Homo sapiens: one gene and its partner. The protein of the gene in region 2 purifies or fractionates together with the protein of the main gene of each other region. This does not show direct contact. Each region holds a gene or a part of one and is shown on either strand. Other genes may lie near its edges.

Evidence for each region. The genes of interacting proteins can lie anywhere in the genome.
Region 1: the proteins of TAGAP (region 2) and CCDC43 purify together in Homo sapiens (affinity purification with mass spectrometry; one large-scale study listed by BioGRID and IntAct). This does not show direct contact.

What each region holds. Positions count from the first base shown.
Region 1 is NC_000017.11:44,682,598-44,687,406, forward strand, and holds part of CCDC43 (coiled-coil domain-containing protein 43), read right to left. Parts: intron 1,363-4,809; coding exon 1,275-1,362; intron 1-1,274.
Region 2 is NC_000006.12:159,037,659-159,042,467, reverse strand, and holds part of TAGAP (T-cell activation Rho GTPase-activating protein), read left to right. Parts: exon of another isoform or gene 1-223; coding exon 224-390; exon of another isoform or gene 391-670; intron 671-952; coding exon 953-1,114; intron 1,115-1,412; exon of another isoform or gene 1,413-1,549; intron 1,550-1,635; coding exon 1,636-1,745; intron 1,746-3,158; coding exon 3,159-3,354; coding exon of another isoform or gene 3,355-3,372; exon of another isoform or gene 3,373-3,563; intron 3,564-4,239; coding exon 4,240-4,354; intron 4,355-4,809. UniProt on the Homo sapiens protein: May function as a GTPase-activating protein and may play important roles during T-cell activation.

The DNA.
Region 1 (4,809 bases), on a different chromosome or scaffold from region 2:
CTGTAATCCCAACACTTTGGGAGGCCAAGGCAGGTGGATCATGAGGTCAGGAGATCGAGACCATCCCGGCTAACACAGTGAAACCCCGTCTCTACTAAAAATACAAAAATTAGCCAGGCGTGGTGACGGGCGCCTGTAGTCCCAGCTACTCGGGAGGCTGAGGCAGGAGAATGGCGTGAACCCGGGGAGGCGGAGCTTGCAGTGAGCCGAGATCACGCCACTGCACTCCAGCCTGGGCGACAGAGCAAAACTCCGTCTCAAAAAAAAAAATATTTTGCCATGCTATAAAATAAAATCAACTAGTAAGTTCTCCAGTCTCAAGAAAAGGAAACAATGGTGTAAAATAGTAGTTCTCACACTTGGTTGCACATTAGAATCACCTACAGGAGCTTTTAAAAAATACAAATGCCTGGGCCCCAACCCAGGTACATTAAGTGATTCTAATATACAGCCAAAACTGAGAACCAACAGTGTACAGAGTTCAGAATCTTTCCAAATTTGGCTTTTATGATTTGAGTTTTCTGTACCTAATTTACCATCCTAGTGGTGGGTATATTCGCCCATTTCTCTTCCATTTTAAAGGGTAAAGTGTTTAGCTGAATAAAGCCAAATACCAACCATAATTTGTGTTATGAAATGACAACATGAGGCAGGGTGCTGTAGCTCATGCCTGTAATCCCAGCACTTTGGGAGGCTGAGGTGGGCAGATCACATGAGGTCAGGAGTTCGAGACCAGCCTGGTCAACATGGTGAAATCCCCATCTCTACTAAAAACACAAAAATTAGCCAGGCATGGTGACATGAGCCTGTAGTCCCAGCTATTCACGAGGCTGAGGCACAAGAATCACTTGAATCTGGGAGGCAGCAGTTACAGTGAGCTGAGATTACGCCACTGCACTCCAGCCTGGGTGACACAGCAAGACTCTGTCTCAAAAAAAAAAGACAACATGAAAAAAGTAGGAAGTGGTAAAAATATAGTTGACTCCATACCTGCAATGCAAATCTACAAGAAGCAGTGGAAAGATGATGAAAAAGAAAAAGTAAAAAACCACAATGAAGAAAACTGTGGTCAGTCGAAATGGAAAAATGCAAAAAAAGAAAAGGAAGCCAATGTTCAGTAAAGGTAACACAGGCTGTTGGGTGTTTGCCAGTGTACACTATCTTCGGGAAAATGAGCATCCAAGGGGAAAATGAAAAGATCTCTTCCTAACAGCTATACAGTCAAGGCTGCTGGAAAAGGCTCAGGAAGTTAAACACAGAAACTCTGACTCTACCTTCTTTTTTCACTTTGGTGACAACATTCTGAGTTTCTGACCATCGTTCCACAATCTCCTTGCAGATATTAAGGAGGGAATCTTCTTCCTAGTTGGAAAAGCAGACCAATTAATTTCCTGAGGGAGCCCTCAAAAACAATAGTAACCTCAAAAAAGCCTATGAAGAAAGCACAGCTCTCCATGCTGTGAAATTATGGAAGGGTCTGGGAGCCACAATAGAGTATGTTTCTTTTCTGAGGCTCTGGACACAGAATTGATCCTGCTTGTGTGTCCCAGAACCCACACCTCCTACATCAAGAACAGCCACTCCATCCTGATAAGCTCCAAGGGAAGATTCATACCAACTCAGGGCAGCCTTCCTCATTCTCTCTTAAAATATTTATTTTATTTTTAATTGACAAATAATAACTGTATATATTATATATATGTAGGGTACCCTGTGATGTCTCAATATATGTTCACATTGTAGAATAATTAAATCAAGCTAATTAACAAATCTATCACCTCACATATTTCTCATTTTTTTGGTGATGAAAACATTTAAGGCTGGGTGCAGTGGCTTACGCCTGTAATCCCAGCACTTTGGGAGGCTGAGGAGGGCGGATCACTTGAAGCTGGGAGTTCAAGACCAGCCTGGCCAACGTGCTGAAACCCCATCTCTACTAAAAATACAAAAATTAGCCGGGTGTGGTGGCACATGCCTGTAATCACAGTACTCGGGAGGCTGAGGCACAAGAATAACTTGAACCCAGGAGGCAGAGGTTGTGGTGAGCCGAGATCACGCCACTGCACTCCAGCCTGGGAGAGGGGAGAGAAATTGTCTCAAAAAAAAAAAAGAAAGAAAGAAAGAAAACATTTAAAATGTACTCTTTTAGTAATTTTGAAGTATACAATGCATTATTATTTATTTATTATTATTACTTTTTAGAGACAGGGTCTCACTCTGTTACCCAGGCTGGAGTGTAGTGGTGCAATCACAGCTCACTGTAACCTCAAACTCCTGGGCTCAAGCAATCCTCCTGCCTCAGCCTCTCAAGTAGCTAGGACTGCAAGCATGTACTACCACACCTGGCTAATTGAGTTTGTTGTTTTTTTTAAAAGATGGGGTCTCACTATCTTACCCAGGCTGGTCTCCAGCTCCTGACCTCAAGCAATCCTCCCATCTTGGCCCCCTAAAGTGTTGGGATTACAGGCCTGGGCCACCACATCCAGCCGATTATTACTTATTATAGTCACCATTCTATGCAACAGATCACTAAAGTATATTCCTTCTGTCTAACTGCAATTTTATACCCTTTGATCAACAATCTTCCCTTTTCCCATCCACCTCCCCCAATTCTTTTGGAGCAAAAACCTGTTCCCTAAGTCAAAACTCCTCTGTGAAATATTCCTTGGCTGACGTATACAATTCAGAACCTTCCCTAAGGTTATCAACTTTCATGCTAGATCATATCCATTAGCTTGCTGACACATAATAAAGAGGAGATACATGACAAAATGGTCTCTTGTCCAACCATCCCGCTGTCCATTTTAGAGAAGCATACATATTCTGCATACCAACCAATCTCCCTCCTCAGCATGATATAACAAAAATCTTGTCTTTAGTGTTAGAGATACTTAAGTTCAAATCCCAGATCTGTGAGGAAGTTTCTTAACTTTCTGATCTTCACATCCTCCCAGGATTTTACTGAGGATAAATGAAAATGTATATAAATGCCTACCCTACTTGTCAAAGAACAAGCATCTAATAAACACGAGCACTTCCCTCCATCTTCATTACGGCTGCATTCCCCACCTTCACGTTCTACCTCTCAGGGCAAGCTGTCAGCATTCACATTTATTAAGCATTTACCATGTGCCAGGCACTGCTCTAAAAGCCTTACATGAGAACTCTCAATTATTAAAATAATGCCATTAAGTACTATTTTACTCTCAATTTATAGAAGAGGAAACCAAAGCACAGAGGTTAATTACTTTGCCCAAGGTCTTACAAGTAATAATGGATTAAACACAATTTGAACCCCAGCAGTTTGGCTTAGAGCCCATGTTCTTTTTTTTTTGAGACGGAGTCTCGCTCTGTTGCCCAGGCTGGAGTGCAGTGGCGCGATCTCGGCTCAATGCAAGCTCTGCCTCCTGGGTTCACGCCATTATCCTGCCTCAGCCTCCCAAGCAGCTGGGACTACAGGCGCCCGCCACCACGCCCAGCTAATTTTTTGTATTTTTAGTAGAGACGGGGTTTCACCATGTTAGCCAGGATGGTTTCGATCTCCTGACCTCGTGATCCGCCTGCCTTGGCCTCCCAAAGTGCTGGGATTACAGGCGTTAGCCACCGCGCCCAGCCGAGCCCATGTTCTTAACCATCTCCCAAAGAAAAGTGGAGAGTCAGAACACAGACTTATTATGTATATCCTTATTTTGTACCCAGCAAAGGATTTCTTCCTCTACCTTGCATCCTTTTAGCTACATGCTAGACACACAGAACTTCCTTGGTCCAGAGTTTCAATAGTTCATGGGTTTCCCCCAACCCCCACCAGCAAGAAAAGCAAAGAAACAGAAAAAGAAAAAAGGATGAGAAAGTGGTACAGCTCTTTTAAAATCCCCCACCAAAAGAAAAAGAATGGCAGGAAAAGGAGCAGCAGAGAGGCAAAAGAGAACGGGAACTCTTAAGAGGACAAAGTGGTTTATTTCCTCAGTCTCCTCATCCAAATCAATGTAGTTCAATCATCCATTCCTTCATTTATTTATACAGAAGGTGCCTGCTATGTTCAAGGCACTAAGAGGAAAGTTTATCCTACTTACAATGCTCCTTTTTCCCTGGCACTTATCACTTTGTAACATACTATATAATTTACTAGTGATGCTTTTCCATGCTAGAATGTAACCGCATGAGGGCAGGAATTTCTATCTGTTTTATTCTTTGAAGTGCCCCAAGCACTTAGGGTAGTGCCTGGCATACGGTAATCCATCAATAAAAATTTGATAAATCAATCAACCAATGCAAGTACTATTGAAGAGAAGGATGATAAAAGTTTTTGTTTACTGTTATTTGCTCCTAACTATATGCCACTGTTCTTGAATTTTACCTCAGATTATTGCTAACAAACTTCTAAATTCCTCATATTAAATCCTAGCCCAAGTCAGGCACAGAGGCTCACATCTGTAATCTCAGCACTTTGGGAGGCCAAGGCAGGAGGATGTCTTGAGCCCAGGAGCATAAGACCACCCTGAGCAACATGGCAAAACCCTGTCTCTACAAAAAAAAATTTTTTTTTTTTAATTAGCCAGGCATGGCTGGGTGTGGTGGCTCACGCCTATAGCCCCAGCACTTTGAGAGACTGAGATGGGTGGATCACTTGAGGTCAGGAGTTTGAGACCAGCCTGGTCAACATGGTGAAACCCCATCTCTACTAAAAATATAAAAATTAGCCAGGCATGGTGGCATATGCCTGTAATCCCAGCTACTCGGGAGGCTGAGAATCACCTGAACCCAGGAGGCAGAGGTTACAGTGAGCCGAGATTTTGCTACTGCACTCCA
Region 2 (4,809 bases):
TTTAGGGAACTGGTTGCCCTGGTAACAGTGTGGTTGTTTATCGGTTGGTTTTTCTAGATTAAGATTCACGCCCTTTGCTTTCTCAAGTTTTCAAAATTATTTTTCTCACATCGCATACTATTGACCACATTATGCGGCCAACGATACCCATTTTCTTACCTGGATCTTTGCTTCTTAACACTGTAGTCTAATTTTTCTCGTTGCCTTGTTTTCTTGGCTGTAGAAGTTAAGAAGAGAAAGAAGGTGCTGTCCTGGCCCTTTCTCATGAGAAGGCTCTCCCCTGCATCAGATTTTTCTGGGGCTTTGGAGACAGACTTGAAAGCATCGCTATTTGATCAGCCCTTGTCAATTATCTGCGGTGACAGTGACACACTCCCCAGACCCATCCAGGTAGGCGTGCATTCTCTCATAAACCTACTTCAGTTTTCAGTTGGACATGCAAAATACTCGGGAAATCTGAATGTCATTCTCCTATTAAGTTTGTAGGGACTGATCTTCCATATTTTCCACTCTTCAACATGGCACTCCCACATACGCGTGCAGTCAGAAGAATATCTGACTGCTTCCATTCCAGAAATTGAAATTAGTTGTATTTGCCAATGAGCTCAGAGCTATGGTCCCGCCATTCCTCTGACTTCACAGAGTGGAGAATGCTGAAGATTTGTAGCTTCTGAAAAGTCAAAAGGGGGAAACAGAATATAGACTTTGTGATCTGAAATCCAATGTTCATATGGAAGTATTTGAAAGGAGAGAGCTCCAAAGTGATTTTAGAAAGTGCAAAATTAGAGCTTTCACAATTTGCCTCCTCTTAGAAAAATAGCAGGGTTGAGGAAGGCCATTGACAGCAACTGGACTGAAAGCAAAATCTGACATCAATATTCCTGTTAAGACTATCTCAGTATACTAAAGAAGAAGGGTAACCCTTTCCTGTTCCTATTGCTGTTTCCTTTAGGACATTCTCACTATTCTATGCCTTAAAGGCCCTTCAACGGAAGGGATATTCAGGAGAGCAGCCAACGAGAAAGCCCGTAAGGAGCTGAAGGAGGAGCTCAACTCTGGGGATGCGGTGGATCTGGAGAGGCTCCCCGTGCACCTCCTCGCTGTGGTCTTTAAGGTGAGTTCAACACACTTGCGCCAAATAACCTGCCAAGGGGCCCTGACACACTCATTCTCAGGATGCAAGAAATAGGCTCTTCTCCCCACACAGCAAGGTACACTGATCTTGGAGTTTAATTTTTTTCATTAAGCCCTTTATTTATTTATTTAGTAAGCACCTCTGTTTCTGTGACCTCAGATTCCAACAGAAAGTGATGCATTCTGCTCTCCCAAAACTTTGCCAAGTACGGGCAATTTGATTGTTCCGTGGCAGAATCCATACGTCAAAATCCAGTGGCCCCTCAGAACACACCCACCTGGGGATGGTGCCTCTGACTCTGCCTGATGTTAGAAAGTTGCAGAGAGGCCAAGGGTGTTGGAGAGAGGGTTCCCTGGATTCATCAAATGCAGGAATGAAGGGCCACAATCTATGATGGGCTAAGCATAGAGCACCCTGCGATGGAACGAAAACCGGGTGAAAACAAGGACATGGGACATCATACAGTACCAATAGGCCAACAGCCCACTCTCATCCCCCAGGACTTCCTCAGAAGTATCCCCCGGAAGCTACTTTCAAGCGACCTCTTTGAGGAGTGGATGGGTGCTCTGGAGATGCAGGACGAGGAGGACAGAATCGAGGCCCTGAAACAGTAAGTCATCAAAGTCATCGGTCATTGCCAGGCCACATCACCTCCGTCTTTTGATTCTTTACACAGCTTTCTAAATGCTTCATGATCCCTGTTCCATGAGAATTGTGATGTTTAGGGAATCCGAGTGGAATTGCTCGTCCACTCCCAGAACAAAAACCAGAGGGTGCCCTGGACTTTTGAATTTTAATTTTAGCCAAATGAAATATTTCTTCAAAAAGTAGAAAGCGAACTTCAATCCTCACAAATCCCAAGAGGTAGGGAAGTCTGAAAATGTAAGATGTTCAAAAAGGTATGAGATAAAATCAGACCTGAGAACTTTAACACAGGCTCACCAGCAAAGTGTAGAAATTCGGGATTATCTTTAAGCTACACTGACTGGTGTCATGCAAGGCAACAGTTCTCCCATAAAACATCCCTCAGGATGCAGCCAGACAGTGTGGTGGGGGGCAGTTGTTTTGTTCATAAAACTTCACAGCATATTTCATCTTCTTATAATTAACCCAAATGAAAACTATATAATAACACATTCCAGTGAGAGTAAAAATAATAACATATGCAATGGAAAGTGTGATCTGTTAGTGACTAGAGAATTCTAAAACCCAAGCTTTGAAATGTCAGCATGGTTGTCACATCCTATGAAAGTTTATCTAAATGTTATAATTGTCCCACATGGCTAAATACTTTCAATGACATATGTATAGAATTGAAGACATTAAAATGTCTGTCCCAAAATGAAAATTCTAAGATTATCACAATGAGTTTCTACCTAGACATAAGGCATTTTTATAACAATTCCTTCTTCTGAGAAATGAAAATAATCACCATTTCGTTTTTGAAAAAGTGAGACTTTAAGAAGTCTAATTTCTTATCATTAGAAACAATGTTGCGATTTAAGTGCCGCCTTATATGAACATGCCCTTAGAAACTGATTTAGTCTTCATAAAGCTTTCTCAGAATGTTGTAAAAATGTGTCATCTTCGTTTGGTAATTATAGTTTTGTTTCCGTCTTTGTTTTAAGGCAAGAAAACCAGTCTAGTCGTGTTAGAAACAGAAAGAAATTCTACATGACTAAATGATTACTCAACAAAACTATTTTCTAAACATAAAGGCAAACTATGGTGTTTAATGCAGATTGGCTTCATAATTTAAGCTCTGTATAAATAATAAAGGGCTGTGTTATTGGTGTCCCAATTACAAAGGCCAGTTTCTTAGCTCCTCAAGACCTTGTGGTTAACCAGTCTCACTCTGTGTCAGTTGCCACTGGAAGTGTCTGAATGAGCATTTCACAATATTACTTGTGAAAATGCACCTTCCTCATTTTAAAGGAAGTCTGGTTTCGGCAGAAACTCTCAGCTTGCTACACTGAAGACCATTAGCCTTTTTGAAAACTAACATCCCTTCACTTTATTCCAGGGTTGCAGATAAGCTCCCCCGGCCCAACCTCCTGCTACTCAAGCACTTGGTCTATGTGCTGCACCTCATCAGCAAGAACTCTGAGGTGAACAGGATGGACTCCAGCAATCTGGCCATCTGCATTGGACCCAACATGCTCACCCTGGAGAATGACCAGAGCCTGTCATTTGAAGCCCAGAAGGACCTGAACAACAAGGTTTGTTCTGCTTACTGATGAGAAATCCCCAACTTATGATCTCACCATCTGTTTGCCAAGTCCAGGCAATAAAATGCTTCAGAATGTCTCCAACTGACTCAGAATCACAGTGAAAATATAAAATGCAAAATGCTTTTGTCATAGTTCCACTCTCTCAGATACATGTATCTAATGAAACTGAATAAATCCGTGTCTTCTGTCATCTGTGAGACAGATGAGTGCTGCGAGTATTTACATCACTCTCTCCCGATATAAAAAAGCCCTTTTGTTTTTGTGTTTTGTACACCACAGTCTATCAGTCTATCAATCTGGGACACTACTTACTTAAATGAAAATTTTATTAATACTTTAAATTTTTTTAAGTTCTTAAATTTAAAATGCATGTCTCAAAACACCAAGGAGTATCTAACTTTAATGTATGTGATTGTTGGCATGGTGGCTCACGTCTGAAATCTCAGCACTTTGGGAGGCCGAGGCAGGCGAATTGCCTGAGCTCAGGAGTTTGAGACCAGCCTGGGCAACATGACAAAACCCCGTCTCCACTAAAAATAGAAAAAATTAGCCAGGCGTGGTGGCGGGCGCCCGTAGTCCCAGCTGCTCGGAAGGCTGAGGCGGGAGAATCGCTTGAGCCCGGGAGGCAGAGGTTGCAGTGAGCTGAGATCAGGCTACTGCACTCCAGCCTGGTGACAGAGTGAAAGCCTGTCTCAAAAAAAAAAAAAAGTATCTGATTGTTACCAAATTTCTGTATGCTCTTTTCAGACACATAAAGATCTCAGATTCTCATTTTGGCACCTGACTCCAGTGTCCCCATTCTTCCTCACCTCCAAAAAAAAAAAAAAAAAAAAAAAGTCTTCAAGCTGACAAATTGCTTACTTTTCCTCACAGGTGAAGACACTGGTGGAATTCCTCATTGATAACTGCTTTGAAATATTTGGGGAGAACATTCCAGTGCATTCCAGTATCACTTCTGATGACTCCCTGGAGCACACTGACAGTTCAGGTATGGAATGTGCTATCATTTGATTACGATTGTAGGGAAAAGTTCATGCCAGTCTGCCAGTCATGTAAAGCATCTCTGATATTTGAGGCAGAAGTTACCTTCACAAATCACCGAGTCAGACTAGACTCCAGTCCATTAGGAAGTCATTAAACATGAAAACCCTGCTCCGGGCTTTTCCTGCAGCGCCTCCTCAGACCACAGATAGTCTTTCCCCCTTCCCAGTGTACATCGCAAATCACTGCTGATTTCACTAAGCTACCTTTAGCTCTGGAGTTGGAGTGAGAAACTTTTGTTTCCACTTCATGGGATATGACTCCATCACAATGAAAATGGGTCCAGTAAAAGGAGCAGTTTTAAAAATTAAGGTCAATACATTTTCAGTGAAATGCTGTTCTCTCTTTTCTTATTCTCTCCTCTCTTTCTCTCCTTCCTCCCTCCTTTACTCATTTCCTTTC